4 linked regions of the Homo sapiens genome follow. The protein of the gene in region 1 interacts with the protein of each later gene in a pairwise test. Each region holds a gene or a part of one and is shown in the gene's direction. Other genes may lie near its edges. The genes, in order: COL26A1, TTC33, BAHD1 and KLF15.

What was found.
Region 2: the proteins of COL26A1 (region 1) and TTC33 interact in binary tests that used the Homo sapiens proteins (3 or more experiments, as listed by UniProt).
Region 3: the proteins of COL26A1 (region 1) and BAHD1 interact in binary tests that used the Homo sapiens proteins (3 or more experiments, as listed by UniProt).
Region 4: the proteins of COL26A1 (region 1) and KLF15 interact in binary tests that used the Homo sapiens proteins (3 or more experiments, as listed by UniProt).

The regions. Positions count from the first base shown.
Region 1 is NC_000007.14:101,554,855-101,559,534, forward strand, and holds the end of COL26A1 (collagen alpha-1(XXVI) chain isoform 1 precursor), read left to right. Parts: intron 1-932; coding exon 933-1,017; intron 1,018-2,515; coding exon 2,516-2,676; 3' UTR 2,677-4,170; downstream 4,171-4,680.
Region 2 is NC_000005.10:40,745,935-40,752,964, reverse strand, and holds part of TTC33 (tetratricopeptide repeat protein 33), read left to right. Parts: intron 1-5,945; 5' UTR 5,946-5,946; coding exon 5,947-6,167; exon of another isoform or gene 6,168-7,030.
Region 3 is NC_000015.10:40,443,931-40,450,960, forward strand, and holds part of BAHD1 (bromo adjacent homology domain-containing 1 protein), read left to right. Parts: exon of another isoform or gene 1-1,471; coding exon of another isoform or gene 1,472-1,613; intron 1,614-7,030.
Region 4 is NC_000003.12:126,354,409-126,362,263, reverse strand, and holds the start of KLF15 (Krueppel-like factor 15), read left to right. Parts: upstream 1-4,855; 5' UTR 4,856-5,027; exon of another isoform or gene 5,028-5,157; coding exon of another isoform or gene 5,158-5,189; intron 5,190-7,855. UniProt on the Homo sapiens protein: Transcriptional regulator that binds to the GA element of the CLCNKA promoter. Binds to the KCNIP2 promoter and regulates KCNIP2 circadian expression in the heart. Is a repressor of CCN2 expression, involved in the control of cardiac fibrosis.

The DNA.
Region 1 (4,680 bases):
GGGACACGACACTGACATCCCTGTCCCAGACCCTGTAATTGGCTCAACTTCCCATTGTCTTTGGTCCCCTGGTGGGCAGACCTTTCTCCTATAACCCAGTAGGATGCTTTTTGGTTTCCTTTTGTTTCATTTTAAGCTAAATTAATCTGAACATAAGACAGATCTGTCATGTTACACCAGCAAAAGGCACCCATTCTGCTGCCAACTCCCAGGGCTGGGCAGGATGGGGACAGTGGCTTTGTCTCCTCATCATCACTTTTCAGAGTGGCCTCGACACCTGCCTTCTCAATAAGTCAGCACCCTGTCTTGGCTGACTCAGGTGTCTCTGTGCACAAGGTCCTCTGCTTGTGTGCAGACCGGGCCCTTGAAATACAGACTCTGCCATCACGCCAGCCTGCCTGCCTGCACTTTGAAATGGTGGCTTTCTCTGCTGTCTTTCTTGCCTGGCATGGCCACACCTACCCTGCCCCTTGCCTGCTGTTTGGTGGCGAGCTCTTGGGCATTCAAGGAAGGAAACAAGCAAAGAACTTCCTACCTTCGGGCCCTGGGATAGGTGCTCTGTCCTGGTTAGGGTATTTTCAGGACATGTGGGGGAAGCTGACAGGCAGCTATGGTGGAAGGAAAAGCTCAGGCTGGAGGCTGACAGGTGTGGATCTGCAGTCTGGATCGGCCGCTTTGCCAGGCTGTGTGGCCGTGGGGAGGTTGCCTGCCCTCTCTGTGTTTCAAGCTCTTTGTCTGTGAACAGGGTTTGAAGCCCTGTCTGGCACATAGTTGATGATGTTCAGTCTATGCTTATTTGCAGTGGTGAGGGTGTCGGGTGGGAAGAGGCAGGGGTGGGGGGCTTTGAGGACACATACACTGTCACTGTATCAGGATGGCCCTGACCCCTTCCTCATGGCCGGCCCTGACCCTGCCTGTTTCCTCCCCGCCAGGGCGAGGGGGTGCAGCAGCTGAGAGAGGCCCTGAAGATCCTGGCAGAGCGAGTCCTCATCCTGGAGCACATGATTGGGATCCACGGTGAGCAGTGACCAGGATCAGCGGGCTGGGAATCTCTCTCCCCTCCTTCCTCTCCCAATGCTGCCCTCATGGCTGCTGCCTAGGGTCTCTGGTCTCCCTCCCTTGCCCCTAGTCTGACCCTCCCCCTCCCCTGCTCAAGGACCCTCAGTGGCTCCCTGCTGCCCTTGACAGACTTCCAAGTGCATCAGCCCAGTTTCCCAGCCCCTCCCTAGTATAGCCATGGTGGGCAGAGCCCTGCCCAGCCATGTTGAGGCCCCTCCCACCTCCATGCCTTTGCTCGGGCCATGCCTCTGCCTGGTGAACACTGACTGCCACTTCGGGACCTGCTCAAAGATCTCGGCCTCTGTGAAGCCTTCTCTGAACCCTCCTCTTTGTCCCTATGGTGACATAGGGGAGGCTTCCATTCCATGCTGGGGTTTCTGTGACCCTCTGGGAGTCCCTTGTGCAGAACAGTGAATGATACCTCTGCAGGGCCTGGAGTAGAGGCCCATCAGCATTTGCTGGAAAATGAATGGATGAATGAATAGGTGAATGGACAGGTGGGTGGGTGAGTGAGTGAGTGAACGAATGGCTGGTTGCCTGGATGAATGTATGCATGGGTGGATGCATAGATAGATGAATGAATGAATGAATGAATTGTTGAATGGACAGGTGGATAGGTGGATGAGTGAGTGGATGGGTAGATGCATGGATGAATAAATGAATGGGTGGATGGATAGATGGATAAATGGATGGATGGATGGATGAGTGGACAGGTGGGTGGGTGAATGAGTGAATGGATGGATGGATGGATGATGGATGAGTGAACAGGTGGGTGGATAAATGAGTGGATGGATAAGTGGGCAGGTGGGTGGGTAAATGAGTGAATAGATGCATGGATGAATGAATGAATGGGTGGATGGGCGGGTGAGTGGACAGGTAGGTGGGTGAATAAGTGAGTGAATGGATGGATGGATGGATGATAGATGGATGGGTAAATGAGTGAATGAATGGATAGATGCATAGATAAATGAATGACTGAGTGGATGGATGGATGGATGGATGGATGGATGGATGGATAGATGCATAGATGAATCAATGAGTGGATAGGTGGGTGGGTGGATAAGTGAGTGGATGGATGGGTGGATGGATGGATGGATGGATGGATGGATGGATGGATGGATGGATGGATGGACGGGCAGGTAAATGAGTGAATGAATGGATAGATGCATAGATAAATGAGTGACTGAGTGGGTGGATGAATGGGTGAATGGATGAATGGGTGGATACACAGATGGATGAATGGGTCAATGGACAGGTGGATGGGTGAATGAGTGAATGAATGGATGGATGCATGGATCCATGAATGAATGAATGCATAAGGGGCTGAAAGCCTGCTGCTGCCTTGCTTCTCCACGCTGGGCAAGAGCATCTCTCCGTGGCCACATATCATGATCAAATGTACCCCCAAGTGTTCCTAAGGCTCTACCTCGAGTCCACCCTCCTGCTCTCCTTCCAGATCCCCTGGCCTCCCCAGAGGGAGGTTCTGGCCAGGATGCTGCCCTGAGAGCCAACCTCAAGATGAAGAGGGGTGGCGCCCAACCCGATGGGGTCCTTGCTGCCCTGCTTGGGCCCGACCCTGGACAGAAGAGCGTGGACCAGGCCAGCAGCAGGAAGTGAGAGCCCACTGCTCCAGGACACCCTGTCCTGGCTAGAGACCCAGCCCCAGAGGCCTGAGCCGCCGCTGTTTCCTAAAGATGCCCCCAGGGGAACTGGGCTCCAGGCATGGATGATTGTGAGGACATGGGGGGCTTTGGGGACAGATAATGTCTCCAGGGGCAGGGTCTGGAGGGGCCAACACCCTCATCAGAGCCCTCCTCTGGCCTGTCCCCTCCCCTACCCCCACTCCCGGCTGGAGACGGGGTCTGGGTGGGCTGGGTGCTGGGAATGAGAATAATCCTAATACCCATCATTTATTGAGTCCCTGCTGTAACTGGCCCTGTCCAGGGAACTTTCGTTACGTTGTCTCATTATTTAACCCTTAGGAGGTAAGCTTATTATCCCCACTTCACAAGGGGACCGAGGCTCAGACGGTAGAAATAACCCTCTCTTGGCCACCAGATCACGGGTGGCAGGGGCAGGATTTGAACCCAGGACCCTCAGTTCCTGAAGCCATGTTCTCTCGACCCTGCCAGCTTCCCCTCTTCGAGAGAAAACTCAGACAGGGAGGGCGCAGGGCCAGAACGGCTCCTTAAGGCAGGCAGGGCTGCGGGGAGGCTGGGCCAGCCAGCCTGAGGGGGTAGGCAGGGTCCTGCAGGGCCTGGGGCTTCCCTTCCTCATCCCCCTTCCCCACTGGCTGGGGGAGCAGCCTGGACTGCAGCTCTCAGAGGCCAGGGAGACCCTGAATAAATCACTGCCAGCCATACGGACTTGAGGACCTTGAGAGAGAAGCATTGGGGGTGCAAGTGTCCACCAAACCAGATAGGCATCCCTGGCCACTGCCTCCCAGTCTTGCTGAGCCCACCCGCTCTCTCTGGGTCCATCCCATCCCTGAGCCAGGGGAGGCAGCATTTCATGGGCATGTCTATCAGAGGTGGGACTTGCAGCCTCTGCCCCACGAGTTTGTCTCTCAGTGGACTCTATAGGTTTGCTACTTTTGCATGACACAGCAAGCCCAGTGTCCCCTTTGCAAGCTGCAGAGAGGGAAACAGAGTCCCAGGCCTGCTGGGAAGAGATGCTCCTGCCTCCCACCTTCCAGAGTTGGGGGCCTGGCAGGCTCCATGGCAGGCACCAGGTCCCTAGCAGCCCAGAACAGCTCTGACTGGAGCCCTCAAGGCCTCTGGGGCCAGGGTCTCCGTGATCAGCTCAGCCCTGGTGTTCCTCTCTTGCTGGGCTGGGACCTGGGACACAGCCACGGCAGCAAACTCAGAGAATTGAAGGTGCTGGCGCCACCCTGGGGCACTCTGTCTTCACAGCAGGAGTGACTGTCTCCAGTGCTCTTGGTACTCCTGTTTGGCTGTGGCCTGGTCCCTCTGGGCCCTGGGATCTTCTTCTGGCCCTTGAGGCAGGTCTGGAGAGGCAGTCTCTGTCTTCATGGAGGGGTGGTCAGAGGCGGGCGGGACCACCAGCCTGTAGCGTTATTATTATATGTGACAATAAAGGTGCTCTCCCCACTGTGGGTCTGTTTGTGTGGTGACAGCTCTGCAGGAGGCTGGTCTGCATCTTACCGGCCAGGTGCCAGGGAAGCTGTGAGCAGCTCCAGCCAGGCCCGGGGTGACCACAGGGCCTCTGTGGCAGGGAGGTCCAGCTCTGCCCTCAGGACCTCCAGGGAGGGGGCTGGGAGTGACACACGATAGGCAAGCCCCGGATTGGGGCTTAACCTGCAAGGGCTCTTGGCTTCACCCAGCAAAGAATTCAAGGGCAAGCTGGAGGCAAGAGAAACAGCTTTATTGGAGGGGCAGGACTACAGCTCCATGACTGCTCGTGCAGAGCAGGGCTTCTCCCCAGGCAGAGAATAGCAGCTCAGGGCAGTTCTGCACCATATTTATACCTACTTTTAATTGCATGCAGATTAAGGGCTGGTTTATGCAGAAATTTCTAGGGAAAGGGTGGTTATTTCCGGGTCATCAGGTCTTTGCCATGGAAAAGGGCAGTGGCTCCTGAGTGTTGCCATGGTGATGGCAA
Region 2 (7,030 bases), on another chromosome or scaffold:
TGTGAATGACCTCATAGCCACCCTCACTTTTTTTCTCACCTTCCTTCTAGTGATTACAGGGATCATTTTATTGTGCTTCACTTTATCACACTTCATAGATACTGCGTTTTTGCACATTGCAAGTGCTCAGTAACCCTGTGTCCAGCAAGTCTTTTCGTGCTATTTGTCCAATAGCATGTGTGCACTTAGTGTCTCTGTGCTACATTTTGGTAATTCTTGAAATATTTCAGATGTTTTAATTATTACTATATCTGTTATGGTGATCTGTAATCGATGATCTTTGGTGTTAACAATTGTAATCATTTTGGGTTGCCATGAACCATGCCCATATGAGATGGTGAACTTAATCAATAAATGTGTGTTTTGAATGCTGTACCACCAACTGGCTATTCCCATCTCTCTTCTTCTCCTTGGGTCTCCCTATTTCCTGAGACACAGCAATATTGAAATTAGGCCAGTTAATCCTACAATGCCCTCTAAGTGTCCAAGTGAAAGGAAGAGTTACACATCTCTCATTTTAAATCAAAAGCTAGAAATGATTTTAGGAAGACCTGTTGAAAGCCAATACAGGCTGAAAGCTAGGCCTCTTGCACCAAACAGCCAAGTGGTGAATGCAAAGGAAAAGTTCTTCAATGAAATTGAAAGTGCTACTTCAGTAAACACACAAATGATAAGAAAGCAAAAACCGCTTTATTGCTAATATGGAGAAGCTTTGAATGGTCTAGATAGATCAAACCAGCCACAATATTCCCTTAAGCAGGAGCCTCATTTAGAGCAAGTTTCTAACTCTCTTCAATTCTGTGAATGCTGAGAGAGGTGAAGAAGCTGCCAAAGTAAAGTTTGAAACTGCTAGAGGTTCGTTTGTGAGGTTTAAGAAGCCATTTTCATAACATGAAAGTGCAAAGTAAAGCAGCAAATGCTGATGTTATCCAGAAAAGATCTAGCTAAGATAATTGATGAAGTTGGCTACACTAAATGAGATTTTCTTTTTTTTTTTTTTTTTCTTTTGAGACGGAGTTTCACTCTGTTGCCCAGGCTGGAGTGCAATGGCATGATCTTGGCTCACTGCAACCTCCGCCTCCTGGGTTCAAGCGATTCTCCTGCCTCAGCCTCCCGAGCAGCTGGGACTACAGGCGTGCGCCACCACGCCCAGCTAATTTTTGTATTTTTAGTAGAGACAGGGCTTCACCATGTTGGCCAGGATGGTCTCTATCTCTTGACCTTGTGATCCTTCCGCCTTGGCCCCCCAAAGTGCTGAGATTACAGGTGTGAGCCACTGCGCATGGCCATAAGATTTTCAATGTGGATGACACAGGTTTCTATTGGAAGAAGATACTCTCCAGGACTTTCATAGCTGCAGAGAAGTCAATGCTTGGCTTTAAAGCATCAGAAGACAGGCTCACTCCTTTGTGAGGGCTAATGTAGCTGGGAACTTTAAATTGAAGCCAATGTCTATTTACCGTTCTCAAAATCCTGTTGCCCTTGAGAATTATGCTAAATGTACTTTGCCTGTGTTCTATAAATGGAACAACAAAGCCTGGATGATGGCACATCTGTTTACAGCATGGTTTACTGAATATTTTAAGCCCACTATTGAGACCTGCTCATGAAGAAAAGATTCCTTTCAAAATTTTACTGCTCATTGACAGTGCACCCTGTCATCCAAGAGTTCTGATGGAGATGTACAAGATTAATGTTGTTTTCATGCCTATTAACAACAGCATCTTTTCCTCAGCCCATGGATCAAGGAGCAATTTTCACTTTCAAGTCTTACTATTGAAGAAATACATTTTGTAAGGCTATAGCTGCCATAGATAGTGATTCTTCTGATTCATTTGGACAAAGTCAATTGAAAACTTTCTGGAAAGGATTCTAATTCTAGATAACCATTAGGAATATTTGTGATTCATGGGAGGTGGTCAAAATATCAACATTAACAGGAATTTGGAAGAAGTTGATTACAACCTTCATGGATAACTTTGAGGGGTTCAAGACTTCAGTGGAGGAAATAACTGCAGATGTGGTGGAAATAGTAAGATAACTCAAATTAGAAGTGGAGCCTGAAGATGTGACTGAATTCCTGCAATCTCATGATAAAATTTGAAAGGATGAGGAGTTGCTTCTTAGGGATGAACAAAGAAAGTGGTTTCTTGAGATGGAATCTACGCCTGGTGAAGATGCTGTTAACATGGTTGAAATGACAACAAAGGACTTAGAGTACATTATATAAACTTAGTTGATAAAGCAGTGGCAGAGTTTGACAGTATCGACTCTAATTTTGAAAGAAGTTCTGCTGTGGGTAAAATGCTACCAAATAGGACTGCATGCTACAGAAAAATTTTTTGTGAAAGGGAGAATCAGTCGATGCAGCAAACTTCATTGTTGTTGTTTTTTTTTTGGAGACAAAGTCTTATCCTGTCACCCAGGGTGCCAGGGTGGAGTTCGGTGGCATGGTCATGGCTCACTGCAGCCTTAACCTCCTGGGCTCAGGTGATCCTCCTGCCTCTGTCTCCTGAGTAGGTGGGACTACAGATGTGTACCACCACGCCTGGATAGTTTTTAAAAATTTTTTGTAGAGATGAGATTTCGCTGGTCTCAAACTCCTGGGCTCAAGCCCTCTACCTGCCTTAGCCTCACAAAGTGCTAGGATTACAGGCGTGAGCCAACATGCCTGACCGCTGTTGTCTTATTTTAAAAAATTGTCACAGCCACCAGCCTTCAGTAACCACCACCCTGATCAGTCAACAGCCATCAACATTGAGGAAAAACTCTCCATCAGTAAAAAGATTAGGACTTGCTGAAGGTTCAGATGATCATTGGCGTTTCTTAGCAATAAAATATTTTTAAATTAAGGCATGTACTTTTTTTTTTTTTTTTGAGATGGAGTTTCGCTCTGTTGCTCAGGCTGGAATGCAGTGGTGCAATCTCAGCTCACTGCAACCTCTGCCTCCCGAGTTCAAGCGATTCTCCTGCCTTAGCCTCCTGAATAGCTGGGATTACAGGCACATGCCACCACGCCCGGATAATTTTTGTATTTTTAGTAGAGACGGGGTTTCACCATGTTGGTCAGGCTGGTCTCAAACTCCTGACCTCGTGATCTGCCCACCTCAGCCTCCCAGAGTGCTGGGATTACAGGCGTGAGCCACTGCACCTAGCAAGGCATGTACATTTTTAAAGATATGATGCTATAACACTTAATTAGACTATAGTATAGTGTAAACATAACTTTTATATGCATAGGGAGACCAAAGCATTTGTGTGACCCACTTTTTAGTATTATTCACTTTATTGCAGTGGTCTGGAACTGACCGTGCAACAACTCTGAGATAGGCCTGTACTTATACATCACTTCAGCCATGTGCATCAGTAATGAAGACCTTGAAACCTGCTCGAACTTATGCAGTATTTCATTTCTCTCCCTCCCATACTCCCACAGTGCCCATTCTTTGGTAGTTTCATAAAGCCCTCTGATTCGTTGCTTTTCTTTTCTTTATGTTTTTTGGTTCATTGCTTTTTTTCTCTGTTTCTCTAGTTGATCATTTGATCAAAATCTCCTTGTGGTTATAGACTCCTTTAAGAATGGAATGAAAGCTTAAACACTATTCTCCAAAATGTACACAGATATAAAGAATTTTGTACAATTTATATACAGTTCCCAGTGTTTCTTAGTATCTTGAAGACCATCTATACAACTAGTAAATTTTTGGATCCCTCAGTTAATCTCTTCTCTAAATAAATATTTGTTGAATTATTTCAGGATTTCTGTTAACTTTGTTTTATCATTTATCCTCTCTTTATTTCTTACATTTGTATATCATTGCAGATTTACTGAAAAGTTCAGCATTTGTTATTTATTTATTTTTTGAGATGGAGTTTTGCTCTGTTGCCCAGGCTCACTGCAACCTCCGCCTCCCGGGTTCAAGCAATTCTCTTGCCTCAGTCTCCTGAGTAGCTGGGATTACAGGCATGTACCACCACGCCTGGCTAATTTTTGTATTTTTAGTAGAGATGGGGTTTGGCCAGGCTGGTCTTAAACTCCTGACCTCAAATGATCCACTGGCCTTGGCCTCCCAAAGTGCTAGGATTACAGACGTGAGCCACCGTGCCCGGCCAGCATCTGTTATTTTAAAATTTACCCAATAATTTTGTGAGTTAAGTCGTTTACCAAGTTTGAATCTTTTAAAACCTTTTTATTATGGAAAATTTTAACACATATGAAAGGAAAAAGTACAATGAACACTATGTACTCATCATTCAACTTCATTAGTTATCAATTAAAAGCAATCTAATTTCATGTATATTTTCTCTTGCATTGCACTCCCAACCTCCACTGATTGCTTTAAAACAATTCCTAGATGTCTTATAATTTTATATGAAATATTTCAGTTTATATTTCTAAAACCTAGGGGTTCCTTTTGTAAGCATAATTACAATACCATTATCACACCAAAGAAAAAATAGCCATAATTTGCCAGGTGCGGTGGCTCACGCCTGTAATCCCAGCAATTTGGGAGGGTGAGGTGGGTGGATCACCTGAGGTCAGGAGTTCAAGACCACCCTCACCAACATAGTGAAACTCCATCTCTACTAAAAATATAAAATTAGAAGGGCATTGTGACGCATGCCTGTAATCCCAGCTGCTCGGGAGGCTGAGGCAGGAGAATTGTTTGAACCTGGGAGGCAGAGGTTGCAATGAGCCGAGGTCGTGCCATTGCACTCCAGCTGGGGAAACGAGCAAAACTCCATCTCAAAAAAACAAAACAAAACAGTGATTTCTTAATATCATCAAATATCAAATCGGTGTTCCCATTCCTCCTATTTCATAAATGTTTCCTTCTGGCTGGGTGCAATGGCTCACGCCTGTTATCTCAGAACTTTGGGAGGCCGAGGTGGGCGGATCTCCTAAGGTCAGGAGTTTGAGACCAGCCTGGCTAACATGGTGAAATCCCGTTTCTACTAAAAATACAAAAAATTACCCAGGCGTGGTGGTGCCTGCCTATAATCCCAGCTACTCGGGAGGCTGAGGCAGGAGAATTGCTTGAACCTGGGAGGCAGAGGTTGCAGTGATCCGAGATCGGGCCGTTGCACTACAGCTTGGGCAACAAGAGCAAAACTTTGTCTCAGAAAAAAAAAAGTTTTCTTCTCATTGGCTTTTTTGAATCAGGAGTGAAACAAGATCCACATGTTATGTTGGTTAGTATGTCTCTTAAGTCTCTCTTAATTTAGGGGTTACCTTGTTCTTTCTCTTCTTTCTTTCCTGGCAGTTTATTTCTTGAAGAAACCAGCTTTATTTTCCTTTAGTTTCTGTTTTTTGCTATCTGCATCTCTGATGTGTTATTGAGCATGCTTCACTTTATCCTGTATTTCTTATAGGTAGAGGCCTGATCTGACTCAGGGTTAATTTTTGTAGGAGTACTTACTTCATGAGTGACATGCTACTTCCATCAGGAGGTGTGTGATGTCCAGTTGTCTTTCTTAGTGATGTTAGTGGCCATTGATGATTATTGCCTACAGCCACTAATTAGGGTTGAAAAATGGTGATAGTCTAATCCTGTTATTTCCTCTTTACCTATGGGTTGGAATACTTCCATAAAAGACCAAGTTTTGGGCCGGGCGTGGTGGCTCATGCTTGTAATCCCAGCACTTTGGGAGACCGAGATGGGCAGATCACCTGAGGTCGGGAGTTTGAGACCAGCCTGACCAACATGGAGAAACCCCGTCTCTAGTAAAAATACAAAAATTAGCCGGTGTGGGTGGTGCATGAGTGTAATCCCAGCTATTCGGGAGGCTGAGGCAGGAGAATCACTTAACCCGGGAGGCGGAGGTTACGGTGAGCCGAGGTCGTGCCATCGTACTCCAGCCTGGGCAACGAGAGTGAGACTCCATCTCAAAAAAAAAAAAAGATCAAGTTAGAATTTTAAAGCTGTTTCTTTGTAATTTTCCAGAATGGCTTCCTTTGGGTGGAAGAGGAAAATTGGTGAGAAGGTCTCAAAGGTCACTTCCCAGCAGTTTGAAGCTGAAGCTGCTGATGAGAAGGATGTAGTTGACAACGATGAAGGGAACTGGCTTCATGCCATTAAACGTAGGAAAGAAATTCTTCTTGAAGGCTGTGCTGAGAAAAGTAAACAGCTGAAGGATGAAGGAGCCAGTTTGGCTGAAAATAAAAGGTATGTATTTAAAGTTTTTTTTTTATGGAGAAGAGCTTACATTTTCTAGCTCACTGTCCGTAATGGGATGAAGAGTTATGAATTTGATAAATTCATGTTTAAAAATCTATTCTAGGTGCTAAATTAATCAAAGAAATAAGGTGTTTCAAAGTCACCTGAAAAATGAAAGTTTGTAAAATAGTTTTCAGGATGCAATGAAAGTTTGTAAAATAGTTTTCAGGATGCTAATTATGTCCCTGCTTTGCCATCATTTTTGTTGTGCCTAAAGAAGAGTAAATGCTAAGTAAAATGTAATTCAAGTGATTGGTCAGTAAAAGGTGGTCTTATCACTGGAAACTTTCTGCTTATAACATTATGTATCAGGTAAATTAGGCATTTCCTGAATAGCTTTGAGGGCACATACATAAAAAAAAATAGGTATTTAGTTATTCTTTGCCATTTACTTCTTATATACTTAAGTAAATATGACTTGCTGTACAGGAAGTTGATAATAGCTTCATTTATTTTTAGCCCTTCTTTAGCTAAGTTGTTCCTATATGCACCCATTTCTTTTTTCTTTTTTCCTTTCCTCTTTTTCTTACTTTTTTATTCCTTTTCTCCTTTTTCTGCTTAGATTTTTAAGAAGGACCAAAAATCATTTTTCATTAGTCAGTGGGGAAAAGACAAATTTTTTAGTAGATTCTGTTGAGAAAACTGGATTACTACCTAGAGGAAAATAAAACTGTGTCTGTATCTAATACCATGCACAAAGATGGACCCTGGAGGGATTAAAAATTTGTGAAAGGTAAAACTATGCAATTAATAGAAGAAAATATAGAATGGTATCTCTAATCTATGGTGGAAAAGGCCTTTTTTATTTTGAA
Region 3 (7,030 bases), on another chromosome or scaffold:
CTTTACTCCCACTTGAATCCCACTTGTCCTTAGTCTGGTTGTTGCTCAGACCACTCCAGGCCAACATAGTCATCCCCGCCTGAGCTCATGACTCTGGATTTTCTAACGTGGTATCCTCTTGAGTGGTTTTGTAGGTTGGAAATTTCTTAAGGACAGGAACAATATGAGTGTTAAACCTCTGTGTGTGTGTGTGTGTGTGTGAATATTCTGGTATTTCTTGTACAGTGCTGTGCACATCATTTTTGTTGAGTGAATAAATGTGGTTGGTTGCTGAGTTAGGCAGGAACAAGGGGGAGACCTTCCTTTCAGCTTCTCCAGAAATGCTCATATTGGAGTCCTTGGAGATTTCCAGCCCTTTCTGTCAAAGGCATATGGATAGGGCATGTTTGGGGTGCTGTAAATGGGAAATTTAACTGCTGTTTCTAATATTTCTGCTGGTGAAGAGTCCTATGGATTGCTTATGTGATACCATATAGACATTGGAAAAGGGCTGTAATCCTGTTTTCCTCCTACCTCACCGGACCACCATTCTTTCTACCCAGCTTTGCTGCTCTTATGCAGTTTTCCTTGTTGTTCATGCTAAATGAATCCATGTTTTATCTCTTCTCAAACCGGGTGCAAATGAGGGAGAAAACACAATTCTGAGCACAGAAAAGAAAAATACTCCTGGGTCTGGCCCATAGATGGGACTTTTGGGGCTGGTTTGGAAGAGGTGTTTATGGGGGCATCACCAACATAAGAGGCACAATCAGCCCCACATTGGACCCCTCATAAAGGAAAGCTACAATCCCTGCTCTCTCAGGCTTCTGTTTTGGTTCACCATCAACCCTGGACCATGGGGGAAACGGGAAAGAGGACTGGTGACTGGTTAGAGGCCAGATAGTGAAAAAATATATTCTGCATCCATCCCCTTTCCCCCAAACCTCCCTTTTGTGCCCCAGTTTGATGATTAATGGACCAGCATTTCCCTTCTACGCGGGAAGGCCACCCCTCACAGTTGCCATGGCAATGCAGACCGCTCCCCCGTCAATTAAAAAAAAAATCCCTACTACTTCTCTCCTCCTTCTACTGTAGCAGGAGAAAAGCTACCTCAGAATGCATCTCCTGGGCTCTCTTCTCAGCTCCTTTAGCTGTGTTTGCTGTGTGTCCTAGAACACAGTCCTTCCTCTCTTTCTGGGGATTGCCTGAGTTTCTTCACTCTGAGCAAATTGTGCCCCTTCTGGAGCCAGCAGCCCCTGGAACACTTATATCAAGAAACAGAGAAAATTTCTGTTTATTTATTCATCCCCGGTGCAAATTAAAAACTAGAGAGAGCTCCTTTTGGGTAAAAAAAAAAAAAAAAAAAACAACCCTTTCACACCTTCTCTGGTTAGAGGTATAAGTTGGGGCACATTTGACATCCAGAAAGGAAGTTTTAGTAAACCTGGAAGGAATTCAGCCTCCTAGCATACATACTTCAAATTGGAGTTCTATGGGGAATTCTCAAAATTATTTTCATTCCTCCTCACCTCTCTGTTCCAGCATCCAGGAGGACTTGTGTGTTTTCATTTTATCTGTTCTTATTCCTCTTGGCCTTGCTCCGGCAACATCTGGCCTCAGCACCCTGTCGCAAGGTGAGTCATTAAGGAGAATAAAAACCTTAAGGAAAAAAAGTCTCTGGAGTTGAGAAGTAGCCTGTGTTGAACTAAGGCTGCCAGGCGAAGCTGCCGAGTTTATGGAGCATTATACGAACAGCCCCGACATTAAAGGGCCTCCTTTTTATGAATGGGTTGTGAAGAATGTAAATAAAGCAGCATCTCTCAATGGGGAAGCATTTTACATAAGCAGTACTACCCCGACCCAAGTATTTATGGGAATTTGCTAGCACAGTCTGGCAAGGCTCACTTCCTTTGTGAACTTGCCATTGTGCTGGGGACTTTGGAGGGACAAGGAGAGTGTGCTTCGGTTCTGAGGGCAGCCCCAGCACTCCCACTCTGCAGGTTTCCTGGCGTTGACTTGATGGGCCAGCTCATGGCTGGAAATGCCTGTTAACCCTGAAGTGACAGAAAATACCATGCGCAGTCAAGAGCTCATGATAATTAGAGATAGAGGCTCCTGATCCTGGGGTCTGGAGATGGTGTAGCTCCTGACCCCTCAGGCTGCTTAGACCTCCACAGGACAGAGGACAGGGAGTTCTTGGATGATGAAATCTTGCCCGGTTTTATGGGAGGCACCTAAGTGGTGTAAAATGGGCTGGTTTGAATTTCAGCTCCTTTATGTTCCCCTGCCCACCTCCTGGTACTGCCACTAATGATCAGTAAAATGGCTAAAAAGGAGGAGGAGAAAGAGCACCAGCAGCAGTGAGGCTGCACGTGGTCTGCTCAGGGCCAGACGGCCTGACAAGCACCCTCACTGAACACCGGCCCAGCCCTGGGGTTCCAACAGGGGTGTTGGTGTCCTGCCCCAGGTGACTTGGTAAGCAGGCCCTGGAGTACAGTCACATCCAGGACTTTGTGTTGTGTCCCTGTGGGTGGGAGTGGGGTCATCAGATTTCATTTTTCCCAGTGGGAAACACCTGCAAGGATGGTTATTCACTTGACTCAGTGTCCCCCCAACACAAAAAAATAACATTGTCTTTTAAGATCCTCTGCAGGCCCAATCCACCAGGAGAAAAAAAGGGGTTTGTCTCTCAGCCTCGCTGATTTGAATTGGGAACTTATTTCTAAGCACTATGACCAAGTTAGCTGAATGAAAAAAAACAGGTGATTTCTTAGTCTTGTTACCAATGTCAGGCAGGAACTTGGGTCTCAATATTTTTTCTTGCATGTGTTCCTTTTCCAGTGGGTTTGGGGAAAAGAGGTGCTTTGACCTCCTGTCTTTGGGTAAGGAGGATGGGACCTGTCTTTCTGCCGTTCTCTTGACCCCAGGGATCTCACCTGGAGTGCTGTTGATGGCTCCTACTTTTATTCCATCTCCAATGCCTTTTGGGGACTCCTAGCCTCCATCAGTGCAGCTTTTTCAGCTTCCTGCGTGCAGTGGAGAGGGGCAGCCCACACAGACCCTTTTCCAACTCTGGTTACCTGTCCACAATGTTTAGGAATAATTGTTAATCACATTCTCATGTGGCCAGGTGGTTTAAAGGTGAATTACTGTTTTTTAGAGGACCTATGTAGAAATCGTGGGAAAGGTATTATTAGGGTGCCGCTTGATGCCAGGAGATCCTAACAAGTATGCCAGAAGGAGGGGTGAAGTCACGTTTCCACCATAGTCAGGGCCAGCAGGGCCTTCCTCAGTAGTGAGGGGTGTCTCCTGCTTTGTGCCTGGAGGGGTTTCCACATTGGCTAGAATGTAAAAAAGAATTATAAAAATGATTGAGGCCAGGTGCCGTGGCTCACACCTTTAATCCCAGCACTTTGGGAGGCTGAGGCGGGTGGATCACTTGAGGTCAGGAGTTCAAGACCACCCTGGCCAACATGCTGAAACCCCGTCTCTACTAAAAATACAAAAATGAGCCGGGTCTGGTAGCATACACCTGTAATTCCAGCTACTCAGGAGGCTGAGACAGGAGAATTGTTTGAACCCAGGAGACAGAGGTTGCAGATCGCGCCAGTGCACTCCAGTCTGGGCGACAGAGCAAGACTCTGTCTCCAGAATAAATAAATAAATAAATAAATAAATAAATAAATAAATAAATAAATAAATAAAAATAAAAATGATTGAATAACTGAGAGATGATTTCCAGAGAAATTGAAAGGACTTGAATTTATTTGGCCCAGAGGGAGGTAGACAAGGGGCAGTTAATATGTCTTTGCATGTTAAGATGACAGTTTAGAGCATGATGACCAGTTTTTAGTCTTCATTGCAGTCTGGGCTGGAGGCAGGGAATTTCACCTGAGACAAGAGGTATTGGGTAGATGCATGGTTGGGGGTTACCTTTTTCTGGATTTACTATAAAATCAGGACAACGTATCTTTGAAGCTCTCTCATTTATTCATTTATTTATTTAGCCCAGACTTCTTAGCATGTCACCCTTTTCTAGGATATAAAATGTTTGTTTCGGCCAGGTGCGGTGGCTCACGCCTATAATCCCAGCACTTTGGGAGGCAGGCGGATCACGAGGTCAGGAGATCGAGACCATCCTGGCCAACATGGTGAAACCCTGTCTCTACTAAAAATACAAAAATTAGCCGGGCATGGTGGTATGCGCCTGTAGTCCCAGCAACTCAGGAGGCTGAGGCAGGAGAATCGCTTGAACCTGGGAGGTGGAGGTTGCAGTGAGCCGAGATTGCGCCACTGCACTCTAGCCTGGATGACAGAGCAAGACTCCATCTCAAAAAAAAAAAAAAGTTTCTTTCAAAAAAAATTTTTTTAATTGTATTTACGTTCTAGCCCATAGATGCCATTTAATTGGAGTACATCTTCAGTTCCTCTGTGGTGGGAAAACTAATAATGTGTGGTAATGCCAATAATTAAAGCACAGAAAAATAAAACTGAACGTGCAAGTTATCTTGCATCTTGGTCTGTGATCCAGCAGCCATCCTGTGATGCCCTAAGTAGAGGCAGTGTGTTGCAGTGCAGGAAGTGTGGGCCTTGGTGTAGATGCCAGGATGGCTCACCTCTGTCCTCAATCCTAGCAACTTTTTATTTTTTAAGAGCCAGCTCTGTCACCGAGTCCAGAGTACAATGGCATGATCATGGTTCATTACAGCTTCCACCTACCGGGCTCAAGTGATCCTCCCACCTCAGCCTCCTAAGTAGCTGGGACTACAGGCACACACCACCATGCCCGACTAATTTTTTATTTTTGTAGAGACAGGGTCTCACTGTATTGCCCAGGCTGGTCTTTTAACTCCTGGCCTCCCACAGCACAGGAATTCTAGGTTACAGGTGTGAGCCACCACGCCCACCCAGCATCTCCTTTTAACTCTTTTTTTTTTTTTTTTTGAGACGGAGGTTCACTCTTGTTGCCCAGGCTGGAGTGCAGTGGTGTGATCTCGGCTCATCGCAACCTCTGCCTTCCAGGTAGCTGGGATTACAGGTATGTGCCACCACGCCCAGCTAATTTTTGTATTTTTAGTAGAGACGGCTAATTTTTGTATTTTCTCCATGTTGGTCAGGCTGGCCTTGAACTCCCAACCTCAGGTGATCCACCCACCTCGGCCTCCCAAAGTGCTGGGATTACAGGCGTGAGCCACCGCGCCCAGCCTTCCTTTTAACTCTTTGTACCTGTTTTTTTTCCTTGTTAGGATGAAATGGTAACAACTAGCTCATAAGGCTGTTGGGAAGATAAATGAGATAGTGAATGTAGTGTGCTTAGGACCTTGCCAGGTGCATAGTGAGTGCTTGACAAACATTGACCATCCTTTTACAGTAGTCACCTCTGCAGTGAATCAGAAATTTCCAACCCTGCACACTTAGGGTGTCTGGGGACTGATAATGCTAACTTTAGTTCTTTGCTCCTGATTTCACCTATCTGTGACATTCTTTGTCTTGATACAAGTGTCTGTAGTACTACATTCACTTGCTTAATGGTTTAGGGGCAGCCACAGCCAGTGGAATGCTTTCCAGAGGTAGCTGGGCAACTTGGGAGAGAGAAGGAGGAGGATGAGGCCAGGCATGGTGACTCATGCCTGTAATCCCAGCACTTTGGGATGCTGAAATGGGAGGATCACTTGAGGCTAGGACTTTGAGACCAGCCTGGGCAACATAGTGAGACCTTGTCTCTACAAAAATAAAAATAAATTTAAAAATTAGCCAGGCATGGTGGTGTAGGCCTGTAGTCCCAACTACTCGGGAGGCTGAGGTAGGAGGATTGTTTGAGCCCAGGAATTCGAGGCTACAGTGAGCTATAATTGTGCCACTGCCCTACTACTGCAGCCTGGGTGACAGAGCAAGACCCTGTCTCAAAAAAAAAAAAAAAAAAGAAAATGAAAATTGATGGTAATGAAGGAGGGTTGTGCCATGAAAATACAAGAGATTTCCTATTGTAACCTTGTTGCACTGTGGATTAAATTGAAGATGCACAGTGGACTCCTGGGGATGGAGGAGAGTTTGGAGGTCAGAGGGCTCTTGTCTTGAGCTCCAAGTGGTGCTCTAAGTCTAGGATAAAGATTTTACACAGGGTGGGGCAGGTGGACAGCCAGATCTTCATTTATTCTTACCAAGCTCTTATTAAGTCATGTGGGTGGGATTTACTGTTAAGGAAGGCAGAGCCTACCTGTCCCCATAGGGCTGGCATCCTATTGGAGGTGGCACTAGCCACTTAACTAGTTAAGTGAGTGATATTTGGGTAGGGTGCCCATAACTCTGATACGATCTGCCTTGCGATTCTGCTCCTGCTAGTGGAGTGTGGGGGAGGCCTGGTCTTGGATCTTGTTCCTCACAGCTGGTTCATTCAGGAGGTTAGTGCTCTGCTGAGGAGGCTGGAGGCAGAGCTCCATCTTGGCCTGGCTGGCTAGTTTCTGTTCAGGACTAGAGCTAGCACCTGTAGTCTTGGCAAGCCATTTTAGAAATCTAAGTTGTTGGTCCATGTAATGTCCTGGTGGTTGAACCAACACTCGTTCTTTGCCATTCCTGGGCAGGTGCTTGGAGAAGGCTGGTGAGCTGTTCATGTTTTTTGAAGAATGGTGCATCAGTAGCACAAGGTTTTCCCTGGTTCTGCTGAGGCCTGTTGCTGAGCTTTGGGGTGCCCTGTCCCCTGTTTTATTCCTGTTTTATTTCTCCCACATTGTTAGCTGCTCAGAGCAAATGGGTTTTGCTGCAGGTGTAGGTTTGCCTCTGGCTGATCCTGGGCAGTATGGCATCTGGATGGGAGGGTCTGAGGGAGCCTTAGCCCAGAGTTAAGGGGTGCCCCCCAACCCCTGCCTGGAGTCATCCTACATGGAGCTAATAGGGGCGAGTCTGGGAAAAGTTGCATTTGTTTCCTGCTTTAAGACTTTAGCTTTTGGGCCGGGCTCAGTGGCTCACATTTGTAATCCTAACACTTTGGGAATCCGAGGCAGGCAGATCCCTTGAGGTCAGGAGTTTGAGACCAGCCTGGCCAACATGGTGA
Region 4 (7,855 bases), on another chromosome or scaffold:
AGTCTATGCAGCCATGCCTCTGGGGGCACAGACACTATTTGGCAGGCAGGGTGGGGCCATACACTTGTTGTACAGACACAAAAGACACAGGCATATTTTTATTTATTTATTTATTTATTTATTTATTTATTTATTTATTTATTGAGACAGGGTCTTGTTCTGTTGCCCAGGCTAGAGCGCAGTGTGCAATCTTGGCTCACTGCAGCCTCCACCTCCTAGGCTCAAGCAATTTTCCCACCTCAGCCTCCCAAGTAGCTGGGACTAACTACAGGCACACACCACCATGCCTGGCTAATTTTTGTATATTTGTAGAGACAGGCGAAACTGCCCTGTTGTCTAGACTGGTCTGGAACTCCTGGACTCAAGCAATCCGCCCGCCTCGACCTCCCAAAGTCCTAGGATTATAGGCGTGAGTCACGGTCCCCAGCCCAGAACATTATTTAGAACAACAACAACAACAAACAGAACTGGTAGGTGGCACTGGCGCTGAGTAGAATTTTTACTTTTTGTTTCATGCCTTTCTGTAGTGCTTGAACTTTAAAAATGTGTGCAGGTGTTATTTTTAAAAGAATTACTTAAATGAATGGCCTGAACACCAGTCTGGGAGGCTTGAAATTGAACCAACAGGGGACAGAGAATCCCATGGCTTTCATCCTATTGACAAGGTGGCCACTGTTTCCCTGGCTTCTAGCTTTTGCCGGGCTTGGTACACCCTTCCATGAGAGAGCCTGGAGTGGCGGCCACTCCCATTCCCTAGAGCTAACCTGCCCTGCTCTGTGGTCTCTTCCTGCTCCTTGGTGCTGCTCCTTGCTGCTCCCAGTGCGTCTCCCCAGGGTGGCGTCCATAGCCCCCTTCACACTCGTCCTTATCACCTGCACCACCGTCATCCTGCTGGGCCCCCTACACTGCACTGGGATCTCAGGAGGCCCTGGCAGTGTGAGTGGCATCTCATCTCCGCAGCAATGCTCGGCACTGGCAGGACGGCTGTCCAGGAGCAGTGAATACATATCAGAAGGAATGGTAACAGCCTGTAATGAATCTCTGTACTTTCCAATGCCTTTTCCCATCTCTTACTTTGGTTATCTTCAAACAACCTTTTGAGGTAAGTAGGATAGGGGTCTGAGCACCCATTTTATAGATGAGGAAACTGAGGCTCTGAGAGACAAACTGATTTGCCCAAGGCCACTCAGCAGTGAGGGACTGTGTGAAAGAACCAGAGTCCAGGCTGCCACGCATGTACAGCCCCACTAGGCTGGGGTTCAGGCTGCCTGCCTGCCTGGAAATCTGTCAGGTGTCAGAGAGACCACAACTCATGGCAGAGACGGGGATGAGGGGAAGCTGAGGAGCCCTCTGACCCCAGCACCACACTGATGTGTCCATGGACCAGGGGAAGCTGGAGCTCTCATCCCACCTCAGCCCCTGCTGCTTCTGGATCCTCCGGGCAGGGGTATACCTGGGGCTTTGCCAATGCTCAGAGCCAGGGGCAGAGGCTCTCAGGGCAGAGGCTCTCAGGACTCAGCCCTTCTCTGTGTCTTCTTGGACCACCAGGTCCCCAGGTCCCTGGGCTGATGTTCCTCAAAGCTAGGTGTGCTCAGGGCTGGGGGGCTGGGGGTGGGGACAACACTGGTCATGAGAGAGGAGTGGGCCCTCATCTGAGTCGCCTGGTGTCAGAACAGACCTGACCTCTTGTCTACACAGCACCAGGGGTCTGCTTGGTGGGGAAACGGTCCAGCCCAGCCTGAGGAACCTCCTGCAGCATGTTTTTCCTGGCCCCTGGGCACCAGCAGCCCTTCTGCCTGCCTATTCCCTAGCCTCCAGCTCAAAACCACTTCCTGAGCCCAGAATGGGTAGGATCTCTTCAGCACCCCAGCCCTTAGAGGAAGAGGTGGTGAGAAGGTAAGGGACTCTGGCCAGAGACCCTTGAAGCATGGCTGGGGACAGGGGAGCTGAGAGTAGGGGGAATTGTTGCTTCCCACCTGGGAAGGGTGAGGAGAAGTCAGTCACTGTGGGAGGTCACAGGGCTTGATGGCCACAGTGGGCCCTTTGTGCACAGACCATTGAGCCACTGAATGGGGCCCTCAAAATGCTTCCTGGAAGAGGGCAGGCTGGGCTCAGACCCCCGGGCAGGCATGAGCTAGTGGGGAGGCTGGAAGTCTCAGGTATGTGTGTGGAACAGGGGATGAGGACAAGATTGGTGGCTACAGTACTGTGGAAGAGAGCACCAGACCTTGAAGAGCTTCTCCAAAGATCCCATATCCATTGGCAGCTTTACTGGGGCAAGAAGAAAATCTCATTTCCTCAACATGTTTCAGAAGTGTTCTAGGTTCTGGGGATACAGCAGTGAATAAAAAAATACAAGTCCATGCTCTTAAGGAGCTTGTCTCCTGATAGGAGAGACAGGCAAGAAACAAATCAATAAATAATATAAAGATCAGGATCATGAAGCAAAATAAACAGAGGCCAGGAAACTGAGGGCAGCAGATGTGCTGTTTTAGACGGGATGGGTGAGGAAGGTGTCTGGGATAAGGTGGCATCTGAGCAGAGACCTGAGTATGCGATGGAGCAATCCATGCAGCTGTTTAGGGGGAAACAAGAGACAATAGAAGAACGTTTCCCTGAACGAAGAAAGACTTGAGTTTCCAGATTAAAAGGATACACCAAGCATAGAGTAGTAACAATGAAAACAGAAGGAGGCTAGAGTCAGACATATCCTGGTAAAATGTGTGAAATTCAAGCATGGAGAAAGATCACTCCAAAAAGGCACCAGGCCCAAATGGTTTTATAGGCAAGGTCATACAATATTTAACCAATATAATTTATATCCTTCCAAGGCCCTTTTCTATACTTGATTATGTAGAAGTAGGGAAGGAATTGCTTTGGAAGAAAAGAAACTTAGAGATTTTCACTGCTATGAAGATAAATCTTTACTGTTTTTGGTCATCTGTTTTGAAGAGCACCACCTGACTTTGTTCTCTCCTTTCTGCCAAGGAATCTCAATGATAGATTCTCCCCACTATATTGAGGGAGCTTTTCTCCTTAGATATGGTTTGGGGTAAATGCTGTACCTAGCTGTAGGGCATTAAAGATTGTGGTGAAAACTTGGGCTTTACTTACTCTGAGTGAGTTGGGAGCTGCTGGAAGCTTCTGAACCCAGAAGGGACCTGATCTGACTCAGGTTTTAACAGGACCATCTTGGCTGTTCTCCAGTTTCTAGCCAGTGGGGCCTCCTCCCTGTGTGCTGAAGGTGCTAACGATGTGTCTTTGCTTCCAAGCTTTTTCTGACCTTTTGCTGCAGCTTTCACCAAGGAGATGGGAGGCACTAGACTGAGAGTATGTGAGGAGTGAAGACCGAGGGCGGGCAGGGCAGATGGAGAAGTGCTGTGGCTATGCCCAATCCAGACCTGCACTGAGACAAAATGAGGAATACAGGCCTCTATCTCTTCTCTTATGAAAATGGACAAATTCCACTGTTCTGCCCAGGCTAGCCAGGGCTGCTGTAATGCCAGAGTGGTCATTCCAACTTCTGTGAACTAGAAAGCCTCTCACCATCCTCAACACAAATGTCCTTAAAGCCCTCTGGCAACGCATTGGTTTGGCTCCTAGTGGCAGCAGCAGCTGAATCCCTGGCACTGACCTGGTGCACAGTGTCCCCAGATCCCTGGTCAAGCAAGCCTAGACCTATAGCATTCCAGAGAGCCTGGAAAGGGTATGGTTAAAAATTCCTGTTCTAGCAATGTCTTCAAGAAGAAGCAGGAGAAAATGCTCCCCACCTCCCAGTGCCAGGAGGGGAGAGGAAGGAAGCTCAGTAGGACAGCTCTGCACAGGTGGCCTGGGGGTGTCTGCAAGATGACCTGGCTCTACCTCTCTACCTGCTCCTTCCCAGCTGTGGGGCTGGGGAGGGCTGGTGCCCTCTCTGAGTCGGTTTCTTCATCTGTAAAGTGCTTGGCTGAGGATCCAGCTGGAGTGTGGATTAAAGGGCACAGCAGGGTGCCTAGCACCGTCAGCCCACGTGTTTTTCTTGGGCAAGCCACTCTGAGCCTTACTCTTCCTGTCTCTAAGCGGGAACCCAAATGCGAGCCAGGATTGCTGCGGACTAAAGCAGTCTACGAACGCTTTTGTAGACTGCGAAGCATTGTTTGGTCTTCAGAAAGGTGCCCCAGAGACAAGGTGTCATTGGTTTCAGGTGGGGGGGGGGGGGGCCGGTCAGCAAACCTCCTTAGTCCTGGAGGGCAGGGTGGCAGCGCAGAGCGCGCGCAATTTCCGGAGGGTAACTGATTGTCCTGCTGAAAGCCCAATACCGTATTTATCCAAAAATACGTCCTTCTAGGCAAGTGATTTATCTGACACTCAGCGGGGGACAGAGCTGCTTGTACCGCGCTGGGGATGAAGGTGGGGACGTGGGCCAGACCGGGCCAGACAGGCTCCCCAGCGCTTCCCGCTCAATCACGCAGACTGCACTTTGGGGCGATCTCAGAGCTTTTCTTAAGTCTTCAGGCCAGTCTCACGTTCTCACCTTGGGAACCGAGCTTTAGAAGCCGGCCCTCGTGGACGCCGCGAGACAGCGGCGAGAGGTGGGAAGCAAGGAGGTGGCTGCGGGCCAGGGACCAGGCAGCGTGTTGGGGGGCGTGCGCGTCTGGCAGCTCCGGGATCCCCGAGCATCCGCCGCTCAAGTCCGGGAGCCGCGCGGGCGGGCCGGGGCGGGGCCAGGGCGGGGCCAGGGCGGGGCGGGACGTGTGACGCGCAGCGCGGGCCAATGGGGCGCGCGCCCGGGGCCGAGCCTCCTGCGAGCCTTCGCGGCGCCCGCTGCGTCACGTGAGCGGCGGGGAGTGAGTGCCCAGCGAGCTGCGGGCGGGCTAGTGCTCCGCCGCAGCGACCCGCGGGCCGGCGGGCGATCGAGCCAGCGCAGGACCCGCGGCTCGGCCCCCGGCCGCCGCCGGACCGAGAGTCTAGCCGCCGCCCCCAGCCCAGCCCGCCCGGCCGCAGGACCGCCGGGGCCTGGCCGCCGGTCCGGCGTGCGCCAAGTTCAGGTGGGAGAGGCGCGGCGGGGCCGGCCGGCCGCGTGGACGCGGCCCCGGGTGATCAGAGGGCTGGCCGGCCTCGGGGCGCGTGGCCGTGCTCCCGCGCAGCTCTCGGAGGCACCGCGCGAGTGCTGGAGGAATGTCGGAGGAGCGGGATGGGCCCCCGCGGAGGTGGGCAGGGGTCGGACTGGCCCGGGGGAGGTGACCCCCCCCGCCCCGGTCGCCCACCAGCACTTTGCTGAGGCCCGCGCCGCCGCCTCGGTGCCTGGCCGGGCGATTCCGTGGCGCGCCTTGCGGGCCGGCCCTCCCATATGGTGGGCACCGGCGCGGCCTGGTGAGAGGAGGGGGAGAGCGGACGCGCTGGCCAGCCCGGGGTTGGGGGGCGGAGGGGCTGGAGACGGAGGGGTTACTGTCGGTCACCGCAGCAGTGTCGGGGGCAAGGGGGGGGCGTGGGACGAGGGCATGGTGCCCAGCGGGCAGCGGTCCAGGACTCTAGAAGGGGTCTGAGCCGGCTCTCTTCATTTCCCACGCACGTTTCCCCTCACCCGCCGGCACCCACGGCGGCTCCACGCGCGAGTCCTTCGCGGACAGCCTCCCGCACAGCCACAGCGGCTGCCGCGCACCACGCCCCGCACACGCAGTCACACGACAGGAACTCACACCCCTTCACGCACACCCGCACCGTTCACGCGTCTCACTCCACGCTGAGTCCCCGTCCGCTCAGACCGAACATTACCAAAGCCATGGCCTGACCGAGGGATGGCGGCGGCGGGGCAGAGAGGCCGTCCCCATCCCATATGGTGGTCCGGTTCACTCTTCCCTCCCCGCCTTGGTGTTACTCATGGAACCCCCCTCTCACGGAGGGCACAGAGGGGCTGTTTTCTCCCACGGCCCTCGGAGGTGACAAAATCAACAATTGTTTGAGAGCCTCAAATCTCCTTCCCCCTGTCCCCCCGGACCAGGTGGCCCCTGGGGAGACCCTGCCGCCCTACAGGTGTGAGGACGCCCGGACTCTGCGACTTTGGGGCCTGCGGGCGGCTCAGGGACCGGAGACTCTTATTTTGAAGGACAGCCCCCGCCGCCACCCCCGTGATTTGCACGCTGACCCAATGGCAAGCCCTTGGCCGGCGCTGGGCTTGTTATCAATTACATGTTGTTCCTGCAGCCGCTGTGTCCCCGGGAGGATAAACAGCAGGCCTGGCCGGGCCAGGGGAGGGGGCGGAGTCCGGCGGCCAGCCGGGGACTGTGCCCGGAACAGCGTGTCCCCTCCCCCTGCACGCAGCCTGCGCCTCTGGCCGCCCCACGTGCTGCTGTGTTTCAGGGGCCGAGCCAGCTCCAGCCCTAGAGTGTCCTCTCTTTAATGCCGGTGCCCTGGGACATCCCAGAGCCCTTTCTGGGTTGTCAGTGCCTGGGTGCTTCCCCCTTGGGACGTTCAGCCCAGCATTAAGACCCTGTTGGCTGACCTGGGCCACCCATTCCTACTCTCCGACCTCCCCCGCTCTCCCCCGCACCTTCCATTCACTCATTCAGCAAATTTTGCCCGGTCCTGTTTTAGACTCTGGGATATGGCCTTGGAGTGAACAGTCAGGACAGCTGATATTCTGATGGGAAGGTAGACAGGGAGGAAAGTTCACAAACACATCACCAAGATAGTTTCCCACAGTAGAAACTGCAGGGAAGAGTATAATATAGGATGATGTAACAGAGTGGGCCTGGAGGCCCCCACAGGGGTGACTTCTGAGCCGAGATCTAACTAAGCAGCTCCCACCTGCAGTGCTGGGGGAAGAGCCAGGGCAGTGGCCCCGGGCTGAGGCTGAAGTGAAGTGAGCACACCTGGACTAGAAGAGAGGCAGTTGGTGGTGAGGTCTGCAGAGAGTCCCAAGGGCCCAGGTGCTGGGCTGCTGCGAGGAGATAGGGCCACCTGTCCTTGGGAAGCCATTGGAGGGTGTTTCCTTCCAGCCCCCCTACTGTACTTTTTAGATCACTTTATCTGTCAATATCTGTTTATATGTTTAAAAGGTAAGGCCTCCTTTAACCACAATATGATCATCACAATTAAAAATATTAACAGTAATTACTTAATATCATGGGATGGCCAGTTAGTGATCACGTTTCAGGGGAGGGCTCTAAGGCCTGCTCTGGGTCCCAGGAGGGCTGGAGGCCCCTGATTCCTTAACATCACAGTAGAGGGGCAGAGGCCGAACGTTTGCCGTGCCTGCAGGCTGACACCAATGGCTGGCACTGGCTGAGTGCTGCCGGTGTGCCAGATCCTGAGGGGGGTGCTTAGTGAGCGTCAGCTCACGGAATTCTCACAACACCTGAGGAACCAGGCACTGTTGGAAGCACCCCCATCTCACAGACTGAGACAGACACAGAAAGGCTGTGCACCTGCCTGAGGTCACCTGGCAGACAACTTGCAGACTCAGAAATGGAGCCCCTGCTTGGAGGGTGGGAAAGGGTTGGGGGAGGCCCAGGGTGGAGTGTGGGCTCTGCCCAGCCTTGTGCCCTTCACAGTGTCTAGCACTTTCATTCCTTCCCAGCACCTGATTTGGTGAATAGGTGCATTTTAAAACATATTCCAGGTTTAAATCCTTAGCTGAGTATTTAAACCAAAAAGCCAAATGTCCTCCTAGTAAAACTGGCCTGGGGCACAGACCTTGCCTTAGTTTCCTGGAGCTCCGTGAAGCTTCCTGGGTAAGTTGGGAACTGGGGCTAAAGGTCCTGGGGTCCCTGAGCAGGAAGAGACTTAGAGATCTTTGAAGCATGGAACAGATGAGGAAACTAAGGTTTGGGAAGGGGAGCAAGGACTTGCTCAAGGTTGTAGCTGATGATGGTAT